Regions from separate parts of the Homo sapiens genome. Here region 2 is linked to region 1. The links come from fine-mapping of genetic effects on plasma protein levels. A gene starts in region 1. The other region holds a variant in brackets. All regions are shown on one strand. Distances are between the middles of the regions.

Region 1 (5,382 bases):
TGCGTCAGATAGGACTCAAATTTTTTGCCGCTCTGTGAATGCCAGCGAATGACTGAAAAATGCTAGGAATATTGAGTTTCATAGATAAATTTTAGCAAGTAGGCAAATTTGTGAATACAGAAATCATGAATAATAAGAATTGTCTGTTAGCGGAAATGACAACCTTTGTTCACTTTTTTCCAGGTGATAAGAATAAAGAGCTGGAACATGTCTTGTAACCTGGCTGCCTTAGAAAATTTTACTTGCCTCACAGGCCTAGAAAGTAGGCTTTGTGACTGATAATTGGCAGCTATGACCTGAAGCAGTTCTAGTTCATGTGGAGCATAATTTTAAGCATAATCTCAAACCCTTCTGCATAAAACAAAGAGCAAGCACTCAAATGCCAGTTATCAATTACTTACTATATGACAGGTGCCATATTCAGCAATTTACATGCATTATTAAATTATATCCCCCCAAAACCCTATGAGGAAGCTAAAGTTTAGGGAAGTTAAGTATCTCATCCATTATCACATAGTTAGAAGTGGCAAAGTTGAGATTTGAACTCAGGTCTATCTGACTCCAGAGCCTGAGTTCTCAATTCAACTGCTATACAATTCTAAGCATATTAAAAAAAAAGTTTGACTTACTTGGAACTGTATAGATGCATGTGTTACAATGATCATAACATTTGAAAGATTTACACATTGAAAAATGAATTTACCAAACAAATAAAACCTTAGAAGCCAGATCTAATATTGTCCCATAACAAAGAGTATCTGAAATCCTCAGGGCATCTGGTTTGTGTCTGGTTTTCCTTAATCTTTAATGATGAGCAAATCCAATGCATTATGTAAGGCCATTTTTTTCTCAAGAGATGTAGATACCTCTTAAGAATTTGATGAAAATGCATTAACTTTTCAGGCTACTGAGTTGCATTTTAGTGCACCGAGGCAGTAAATTAGTGTACAGTGTGCAAAAATGGTAGTGACTTTAAAAATAAATATTTGATATGAGCCACTGTATTCTCTTGGAAAAAAAAAGTAATGGACTAAATCTCTTAGGAATCCTTAGCTTCCCAAAAAGGAGTAGGAAAAAGAAATCTCCTTTGGCCTAGAAATATCTTCTGTTTCTTGCTGGCTATGTTTGCTTAGCTCTTTAATAGTTCATTTGACTAGATCTTGTGGCTCCCAAAGCTAAGGTTGAACGTTTGATCCCTACAGAGGCCACTTAAATTTAGAGAACAAAAAGCTCTATTCTCTGCTCCCAGACTTTACCCCAAATCCCTGCCAGGTGTCTGCCCTCTGGTCAAAATGAGAAATTGGCAAAGGGGTGCAAACATATCGCAGTATTGGGAAACAACAAAAGGTCACCCCTTTATCATGATGCTCTTTCTCTTTTATGTGCTCATAATATTCTGATATAATTTATAGAGAATAGATACTGCACTTTTTACTCTCTGGATATTTACTGCTGGAAATCTGAGGCAAACTGTAATAATCTCTGCCATGCCAGTTATAAAATTCATTATCTTAGTCTATGTTCAGAGATTTTTCTACTAGCTGGCATTACCCTCTTGGTAATAAACAATGAAAAACACATCTTCTGAGTTATGTTAATCTGCATCTTTAGAATAGGAAATAATAGCACTCAGTCAAAAGTTCAGTATAATTTTCATATTAATAAAAGACATGAAACTATGTAAAAATAATTCCATGCACAATATGTTATAATAACAATGACTTCCAATATTTACTAAGAATTTAGTCAGAAAACAAGTTTCTCAAATTATAGATGAAAATTCTCAACTAGTATCATAATCTTAACTTTTAATTCAGGTCTTCCTAATTTTTATTTTCCTAATTACTTGGCACTAAAAATAATTTAATACAACAAATAAAAATATTTTCTACTTCAAATACTTGCCTAAACAATATAAAATCATTTTAGTTTTTGAGGAAGTAATATTTCATATTTTAAATATGTAGTATAAATTAAAATTGACTTATTTAAATTACAATAAGAGTTGTGTGAGGATTAGTAAGATTTAAGTACAGTTTATATTATTGCCAACATAGACTTTTGTTTTTCAAATGTCACAAATATCTTTTATTATTTGTAGATTTATTTCTTTTATGAAGTAGTCAAATGAATCAGCTCACCCTTGACTGTAACAAAATACTGCTTGGTGACTTGGGACAGACAGGGTTTTAACCTCTGACAGCGAGATTCATTGTGGAGCAAGAGCCAATCATAGATCCTGACGACACTTGTCTCATCTAAGTTGGAATATAAAAAGCCACTTGGAATACAGTATAAAAGATTCACTGGTGTGGCAAGTTGTCTCTCAGACTGTACATGCATTAAAATTTTGCTTGGCATTACTCAAAAGCAAAAGAAAAGTAAAAGGAAGAAACAAGAACAAGAAAAAAGATTATATTGATTTTAAAATCATGCAAAAACTGCAACTCTGTGTTTATATTTACCTGTTTATGCTGATTGTTGCTGGTCCAGTGGATCTAAATGAGAACAGTGAGCAAAAAGAAAATGTGGAAAAAGAGGGGCTGTGTAATGCATGTACTTGGAGACAAAACACTAAATCTTCAAGAATAGAAGCCATTAAGATACAAATCCTCAGTAAACTTCGTCTGGAAACAGCTCCTAACATCAGCAAAGATGTTATAAGACAACTTTTACCCAAAGCTCCTCCACTCCGGGAACTGATTGATCAGTATGATGTCCAGAGGGATGACAGCAGCGATGGCTCTTTGGAAGATGACGATTATCACGCTACAACGGAAACAATCATTACCATGCCTACAGAGTGTAAGTAGTCCTATTAGTGTATATCAACAGTTCTGCTGACTGTTGTTCTAGTGTTTATGAGAAACAGATCTATTTTCAGGCTCTTTTAAACAAGCTGTTGGCCTGTATGTAAGTAGAAAGGAAAAGAGTTTCTCTTTTTCAAGATTGCATGAGAATATATTAATGAGACAAAAATCTGCTGCATTATTTGTTTTCTTATAGAGACAAAAAACTAAAAAATAAAGTACTTGCATAGCATTAATTTAATAAGGCAAATATAGATAGCATGCTTATGCTTTCACAATAATACCACCAAGGCAAGGACTGGGAGATACTACAAGCAGTGTTTAAAACTTACATTAGATTTTAGAATTGTATTTAGTTGTGTAAAATAAGTTTTTTTCACTAATAACAGAAAAAAAAAAAGAAACTTGCTGGATGTTTAAGCTTACTTGAGCACTGCTGAAAACCTCAAGTGATTTCTGTTATTTGAAACTCTCTCAGTAATTTTTTTGTTCTTCACAGTTAAAAATTTAATTTTGAGAGCTATTACACTGAAGAATATGCAAAAATTAAATATCTTAATGTGTTAGTAAGAACAATAATGAAGTAAACATAGCATAATAATCATCATGAACTAAATATTAGAAAATGCCTAAGAAATAAACATTTTAATTGGGTAGGTTATGGCTCACAAAGTCCTCCTTGTACCTTGACCATAGTACTATTATTGAGAGTACCCAGTTTGTGTACTTCCAAGCAGGCACAGTGCTTAATAACCTTCTAAAATATTTTATTCTTCCTGAGAGGGAGGGCTTTTACCTGTAGTATCTACACTGCTTCTGACAGATAACATATTTCATACAATTCCTTTTGCAGTCAGCTCAAAAGAATACTTTCTCCAGGAAAGAGAAACAGGCACCTTGACAGAGAAGGCATGGCAAGAAAAATTTTGTGTTACCTGTTATCTTGCTTTAATACAATGCTTTATATACTTTAAACAAGACTCCAAACAGTTTTAAAATATTATTTCCCTTATTAAGTAATCAGGTTACAATGCAGCAAAGAATTTCCATTTAAGACTCTGCTATCAAATAGGTCTGGAGCAGATTTACCTTTTATAGACAATTTTGGAAAACCAAAATAAAAGAAATTGTTAGTGCTTGTGCTTACATGACAGCCTGGCCCTAAAGACAATACTTTCGAACTTTTCAGATAGCCTGAATATAACATCAAAATTTTTGTGTTAATTATCTGCTTAGTTTTGCTCCTTTAAAAGGTTATTCCAAAGCCAAAATGTAACAGATGTACTGTGTTTTCTACTAATTCCTGAGGCTCAGTAAGTTGCTCAGTGTGTCTTGTCCCCAGGTAATTCAGGCCTGGGGGAAGGGTTCCTTCTTCCAGACTGATTGGTACAGCTGCTCAGTAAGTGTAACTACTCAGATTCCCAAAGAATTCTAAGTGGTTGTTCCTCCACAGTGTCTCTTGTTCTCTCTAATCATCATCATTTTAAAATTTCATTCAGCGTTCATTACTTCATAGAACCTTCCTTTGTCCATAGTTCTCTGGAAGGGGAATAGATTCCTGATGAACAGCTGAAAATACATACGTCTGAAAAATTCTGAAAAGCTAGGGTAATTATTTTCTTTGACATTTTTTTGAGTTATAAAGTTCCACACGGTATTTCATTTTAAAAGACTGCATAGGCATACATTATCTTAATTTAAAAAAATGCTCAACTATTAATATGGAGGGGTTTTGTTAATGGGAAATAATTTCAGCAACTTTTCTTTTCTTATTCATTTATAGCTGATTTTCTAATGCAAGTGGATGGAAAACCCAAATGTTGCTTCTTTAAATTTAGCTCTAAAATACAATACAATAAAGTAGTAAAGGCCCAACTATGGATATATTTGAGACCCGTCGAGACTCCTACAACAGTGTTTGTGCAAATCCTGAGACTCATCAAACCTATGAAAGACGGTACAAGGTATACTGGAATCCGATCTCTGAAACTTGACATGAACCCAGGCACTGGTATTTGGCAGAGCATTGATGTGAAGACAGTGTTGCAAAATTGGCTCAAACAACCTGAATCCAACTTAGGCATTGAAATAAAAGCTTTAGATGAGAATGGTCATGATCTTGCTGTAACCTTCCCAGGACCAGGAGAAGATGGGCTGGTAAGTGATAACTGAAAATAACATTATAATAACCTTATGTTTTTATTCATAATATGAACAAACAATAGTGGAAAATAGCTACAAATTCCCTAAGCTCATAAGCTAGACAAAGGTATCTTACCCCAACGGTAGCCCTGTACCCAATAAAAGTAGGTGTCCAATTTCATATCCTATGAAACACTCCCTTGATACTCTTACTTTGCATCAAGATTTTAGAAAACAATTATACCATACTTCTTAACTTCTTAAGAAGTCCTTTTGAATTGGGAATGAAATATAAAGTGCTTTTCATTAATATGATACATGACTGTATGTATTAAAATATTAACTCTATATAGTGGATTTTACCACATAAACCAACAAATCCAAACATTATTTTTTTCTCCCAGAAGGGTGCCAAATGTGTTAAAGATTT
Region 2 (5,382 bases), 87 kb after region 1:
GAGATGGGGTAAAGGCTGAAAAACTACCTAATGGGTATTATGTTCACTATTTGGATGATGGGTTCACTAGAAGCCCAAACCCCAAGCATTACACCATACACCCGTGTAACAAACCAGCACATGTACCTCTGAGTGTATTTTTTAAATGCATTTAATATGCTTAACCTATCAAATAGGATAGCTTAGCCTAGCCCACCTTAAACATGATCAGAACACTTAAATCAGGCTATGATTAGGCAAAATCTTCTAACACAAAACCTATTTTATAATAAAGTGTTGAACAGCTTATGTAATTTATTGAATATTGTACTGAAAGTGAAAAACAGAATGGTTGTATGAAGACTAGCAGTATGGTTTCTACTGAATGTGTACTGTTATGGCAAAAGTTGAAAATTTGTAATTCAAATCATTGTAAGTCAAGGACTTTGTAAATATGTGTATGTGTTTCCATAACCCTTAGCTTGTCAACTCTCTTTTTTAATATCTCCACAACTTCAAAATGTTCAAGTACCCCAAGATTCAGTCCAAGACCTCTTTTATTCTCTACCTACACCACTCCAGCAGTTACATCTTGTTTTATAGTTTTAAATATCATTTAGAAACATGTGACTACCAAAATTAAATTAAATTTATCTTCTAAATCCAGACCTGAGTGGTCAACTGCTTATCTCTTTGGGTGCCTAATAGGCATATCAGACACCATTTTTTAGAAAAACATCATTTTCAAGAACAGCATTCAATATTTGAAATTGTAATATCAGTCTGAGGTGACTTTATTCTAGGAAACCCTACTGGATGCCTGGAGCCAAAAGTAGATATTTGAATGAAAGTGATGGTTATCAAACTGAGTTTGTCTAAAGGAAAATATTCAATTATATTTCAACACCATAAGATGAAAAAGAAAAAAAGTAACTCACTTTGTAAGCTCTATTAGGGCAAGGAGAGTGGCTATGTTACTTACATTATATATTCAGCACAGTGACTGACATATAGAAGGCACTCAGGAACTATTTGCTAATTAAATGAACAAATTTGTACTAGCCTTTCAGTCTACTTTTGAAGATGAAATACTAATGTGGGATAAAAAGCAATTTATCAAGGAAGAAAACCAAATGGTTGGGGGCAGTTCCAAGATGGCCAAATAGGAACAGCTTCAGTCTACAGCTCCCAGCGTGAGCGATGCAGAGGACGGGTGATTTCTGCATTTCCAACTGGGGTAGCAGCTTCATCTCACTGGGGCTTGTTGGACAGTGGGTGCAGGACAGTGGGTGCAGCCCACCGAGTGTGAGCCAAAGCAGGGCAAGGCATCGCCTCACCCAGGAAGCACAAAGGGTCAGGGAATTCCCTTTCCTAGCCAAGGGAAGCTGTGACAGACGGCACCGGGAAAATTGGGTCACTCCCACCCTAATACTGCGCTTTTCCAACAATCTTAGTAAACGGCACACCAGGAGATTATATTCCGCACCTGGCTCAGAGTGTCCGAAGCCCACAGAGCCTCACTAATTGCTAGCACAGCAGACTGAAATTGAACTGCAAGGCAGCAGCGAGGCTGGGGGAGGGGCGCCCGCCATTGCTGAGGCTTGAGTAGGTAAACAAAGCAGCCAGGAAGCTCGAACTGGGTGGAACCCACCGCAGCTCAAGGAGGCCTGCCTGCCTCTGTAGACTCCACCTCAGGGGGCAGGAGATGGCCAAACAAAAGGCAGCAGAAACCTCTGCAGACTTAAATGTCCCTGTCTGACAGCTTTGAAGAGAGTAGTGGTTCTCCCAGCACGCAGCTGGAGATCTGAGAATGGTCAGACTGCCTCCTCAAGTGGGTCCCTGACCCCTGAAGAGCCTAATTGGGAGGCACCCCCCAGTAGGGGCAGACTAACACCTCACATGGCTGGTACCCCCCTGAGACGAAGCTTTCAGAGGAATGATCAGGCAGCAACATTTGCTGTTCAGCAATATTCGCTGTTCTGCAGCCTCTGCTGCCGATACTCAGGCAAACAGGGTCTGGAGTGGACCTCCAGCATACTCCAACAGGCCTGCAGTGGAGGATCCTGACTGTTAGAAGGAAAACTAACAAACAGAAAGGACATCCACACCAAAACCCCATCTGTACGTCACCATCATCAAAAACCAAAGGTAGATAAAACCACAAAGATGGGGAAAAAACAGAGCAGGAAGCTGAAATTCTAAAAATCAGAGCACCTCTCCCCCTCCAAGGAACGCCGCTTCTCACCAGCAATGGAACAAAGCTGGACGGAGAATGACTGACTAGTTGAGAGAAGAGGGCTTCAGACGATCAAACTTCTCTGAGCTAAAGGAGGAAGTCTGAACCCAACACAAAGAAGCTAAAAACCTTGAAAAAAGATTAGACGAATGGCTAACTAGAATAACCAGTGTACAGAAGTCCTTAAATGACCTGATGGAGCTGAAAACCATGGCACGAGAACTACTTGACGAATGCACAAGCTTCAGTAGCCGATTCGATCAACTGGAAGAAAGGGTATCAGTGACTGAAGATCAAATGAGTGAAATGAAGCGAGAAGAGAAGTCTAGAGAAAAAAAAGAGTAAAAAGAAATGAACAAAGCTTCCAAGATATATGGGACTATGTGAAAAGACCAAATCTACACCTGATTGGTGTACCTGAAAGTGATGGGGAGGATGGAACCAAGTTGGAAAACACTCTGCAGGATATCATCCAGGAGAACTTCCCCAACCTAGTAAGGCAGGCCAACATTCAAATTCAGGAAATACAGAGAACGCCACAAAGATACTCCTCGAGAAGAGCAACTCCAAGACACATAATTGTCAGATTCACCAAAGTTGAAATGAAGGAAAAAA[C/T]GTTAAGGGCAGCCAGAGAGAAAGGTCGGGTTACCCACAAAGGGAAGCCCATCAGACTAACAGGGGATCTCTCAGCAGAAACTCTACAAGCCAGAAGAGAGTGGGGGCCAATATTCAACATTCTTAAAGAAAAGAATTTTCAACCCAGAATTTCATATCCAGCCAAACTAAGCTTCATAAGTGAAGGAGAAATAAAATCCTTTACACACAAGCAAATGCTGAGAGATTTTTTCACCACCAGGCCTGCCCTACAAAAGTTCCTGAAGGAAGAACTAAACACGGAAAGGAACAACTGGTACCAGCCACTGCAAAAACATGCCAAATTGTAAAGACCATCAGTGCTAGGAAGAAACTGCATCTACTAACGAGCAAAATAACCAGCTAATATCATAATGACAGGATCAAATTCACACACAACAATATTAACTTTAAATGTAAATGGGCTAAATGCTCCAATTAAAAGACACAGACTGGCAAATTGGATAAAGAGTCAAGACCCATCAGTGTGCTGTATTCAGGAGACTCATCTCACGTGCAGAGATACACATAGGCTCAAAATAAAGGGATGGAGGAAGATCTACCAAGCAAATGGAAAACAAAAAAAGGCAGGGGTTGCAATCTTAGTCTCTGATAAAACAGACTTTAAACCAACAAAGATCAAAAGAGACAAAGAACACCATTACATAATGGTAAAGAGATCAATGCAACAAGAAGAACTATCCTAAATATGCATGCACCCAATACAGGAGCACCCAGATTCATAAAGCAAGTCCTTAGAGACCTAGAGACCAAAGAGACTTAGACTCCCACACAATAATAATGGGAGACTTTAACACCCCACTGCTAACATTAGACAGATCAACGAAACAGAAAGTTAAAAAGGATATCCAGGAATTGAACATAGCTCTGCACCAAGCAGACCTCATAGACTGCTACAGAACTCTCCACCCCAAATCAACAGAATATACATTCTTCTTAGCACCACATCACACTTATTCCAAAATTGACCACATAGTTGGAAGTAAAGCACTCCTCAGCAAATGTAAAAGAACAGAAATTATAACAAACTGTCTCTCAGATCACAGTGCAATCAAACTAGAACTCAGGATTAAGAAACTCACTCAAAACCGTTCAACTACATGGAAACTGAACAACCTGCTCCTGGATGACTACTGGGTCATAACGAAATGAGGGCAGAGATAAAGATGTTCTTTGAAACCAACGAGAACAAAGACACAACATACCAGAATCTCTGGGACACATTTAAAGCAGTGTGTAGAGGGAAATTTATAGCACTAAATGCCCACAAGAGAAAGCAGGAAAGATCTAAAATTGACACCCTAACATCACAATTAAAAGAACTAGAGAAGCAAGAAGAAACAAATTCAAAAGCTAGCAGAAGGCAAGAAATAACTAAGATCAGAGCAGAACTGAAGGAAATAGAGACACAAAAAAACCTTCAAAAAATCAATGAATCCAGGAGTTGGTTTTTTGAAAAGATCAACAAAATTGATAGACTGCTAGCAAGACTAATAAGAAAAGAGAGAGGAGTCAAATAGATGCAATAAAAAATGATAAAGGGGATATCACCACCAATCCCAAAGAAATACAAACTACCATCAGAGAATAATATAGACACCTCTATGCAAATAAACTAGAAAATCTAGAAGAAAGGGATAAATTCCTGGACACATACAACCTCCCAAGACTAAACCAGGAAGAAGTTGAATCCCTGAATAACCAATAACAGGCTCTGAAATTGAGGCAATACTTAATAGCCTACCAACCAAAAAAAGTCCAGGACCAGATGGATTCACAGCCAAATTCTACCAGAGGTACAAGGAGGAACTGGTACCACTCCTTCTGAAACTATTCCAATCAATAGAAAAAGAGGGAATCCTCCCTAACTCATTTTATGAGGCCAGCATCATCCTGATACCAAAGCCTGGCAGAGACACAACCAAAAAAGAGAATTTTAGACCAATATCCCTGATGAACATAGATGCAAAAATCCTCAATAAAATACTGGCAAACCGAATCCAGCAGCACATCAAAAAGTTTATCCACCATGATCAAGTGGCCTTCATCCCTGGGATGGAAGGCTGGTTCAACATACACAAATCAATAAACATAATCCAGCATATAAACAGAACTAAAGACAAAAAAACACATGATTATCTCAATAGATGCAGAAAAGGCCTTTGACAAAATTCAACAGCCCTTTATGCTAAAAACTCTCAATAAATTAGGTATTGATGGGATGTATCTCAAAATAATAAGAGCTATTTATGACAAACCCACAGCCAATATCATACTGAATGGGCAAAAACTGGAAGCATTCCCTTTGAAAACTAGCACAAGACAGGGATGCCCTCTCTCACCACTCCTATTCAACATAGTGTTGGAAGTTCTGGCCAGGGCAATCAGGCAAGAGAAAGAAATAAAGGATATTCAATTAGGAAAAGAGGAAGTCAAATTGTCCCTGTTTGCAGATGACATGATTGTATATTTAGAAAAGCCCATCATCTCAGCCCCAAATCTCCTTAAGCTGA

Alleles and levels. Positions count from the first base shown, and alleles are read on the strand shown. Strength reflects both the effect of a copy and how common the allele is.
In carriers of allele C in region 2, the plasma level of the protein whose gene starts at base 2,300 in region 1 tends to be lower than with T alone (weak association).

What was found. PIP is the chance, under the fine-mapping model, that this variant and not a neighbour inherited with it causes the effect. Protein levels are from antibody-based Olink assays in UK Biobank. Linkage for the fine-mapping came from a reference panel and not from the study's own genotypes, which makes the PIPs less certain.
Region 2: its variant is fine-mapped to the plasma level of the MSTN protein (UK Biobank, PIP 0.95).

Annotation. Positions count from the first base shown.
Region 1 is chr2:190,059,647-190,065,028 of GRCh38, reverse strand. It overlaps MSTN (myostatin), which reads left to right and starts at 2,300. Exons shown (of 3, transcript NM_005259.3): 1 at 2,300-2,805; 2 at 4,594-4,967. The coding sequence starts at 2,433. It also overlaps a transcript of AKAP19 not described here.
Region 2 is chr2:189,972,862-189,978,243 of GRCh38, reverse strand. It overlaps a transcript of AKAP19 not described here. Among named protein-coding and RNA genes, the nearest start is that of MSTN, 87 kb to the left of the region's middle. The variant C/T (reference allele first, on the strand shown) is at 2,831.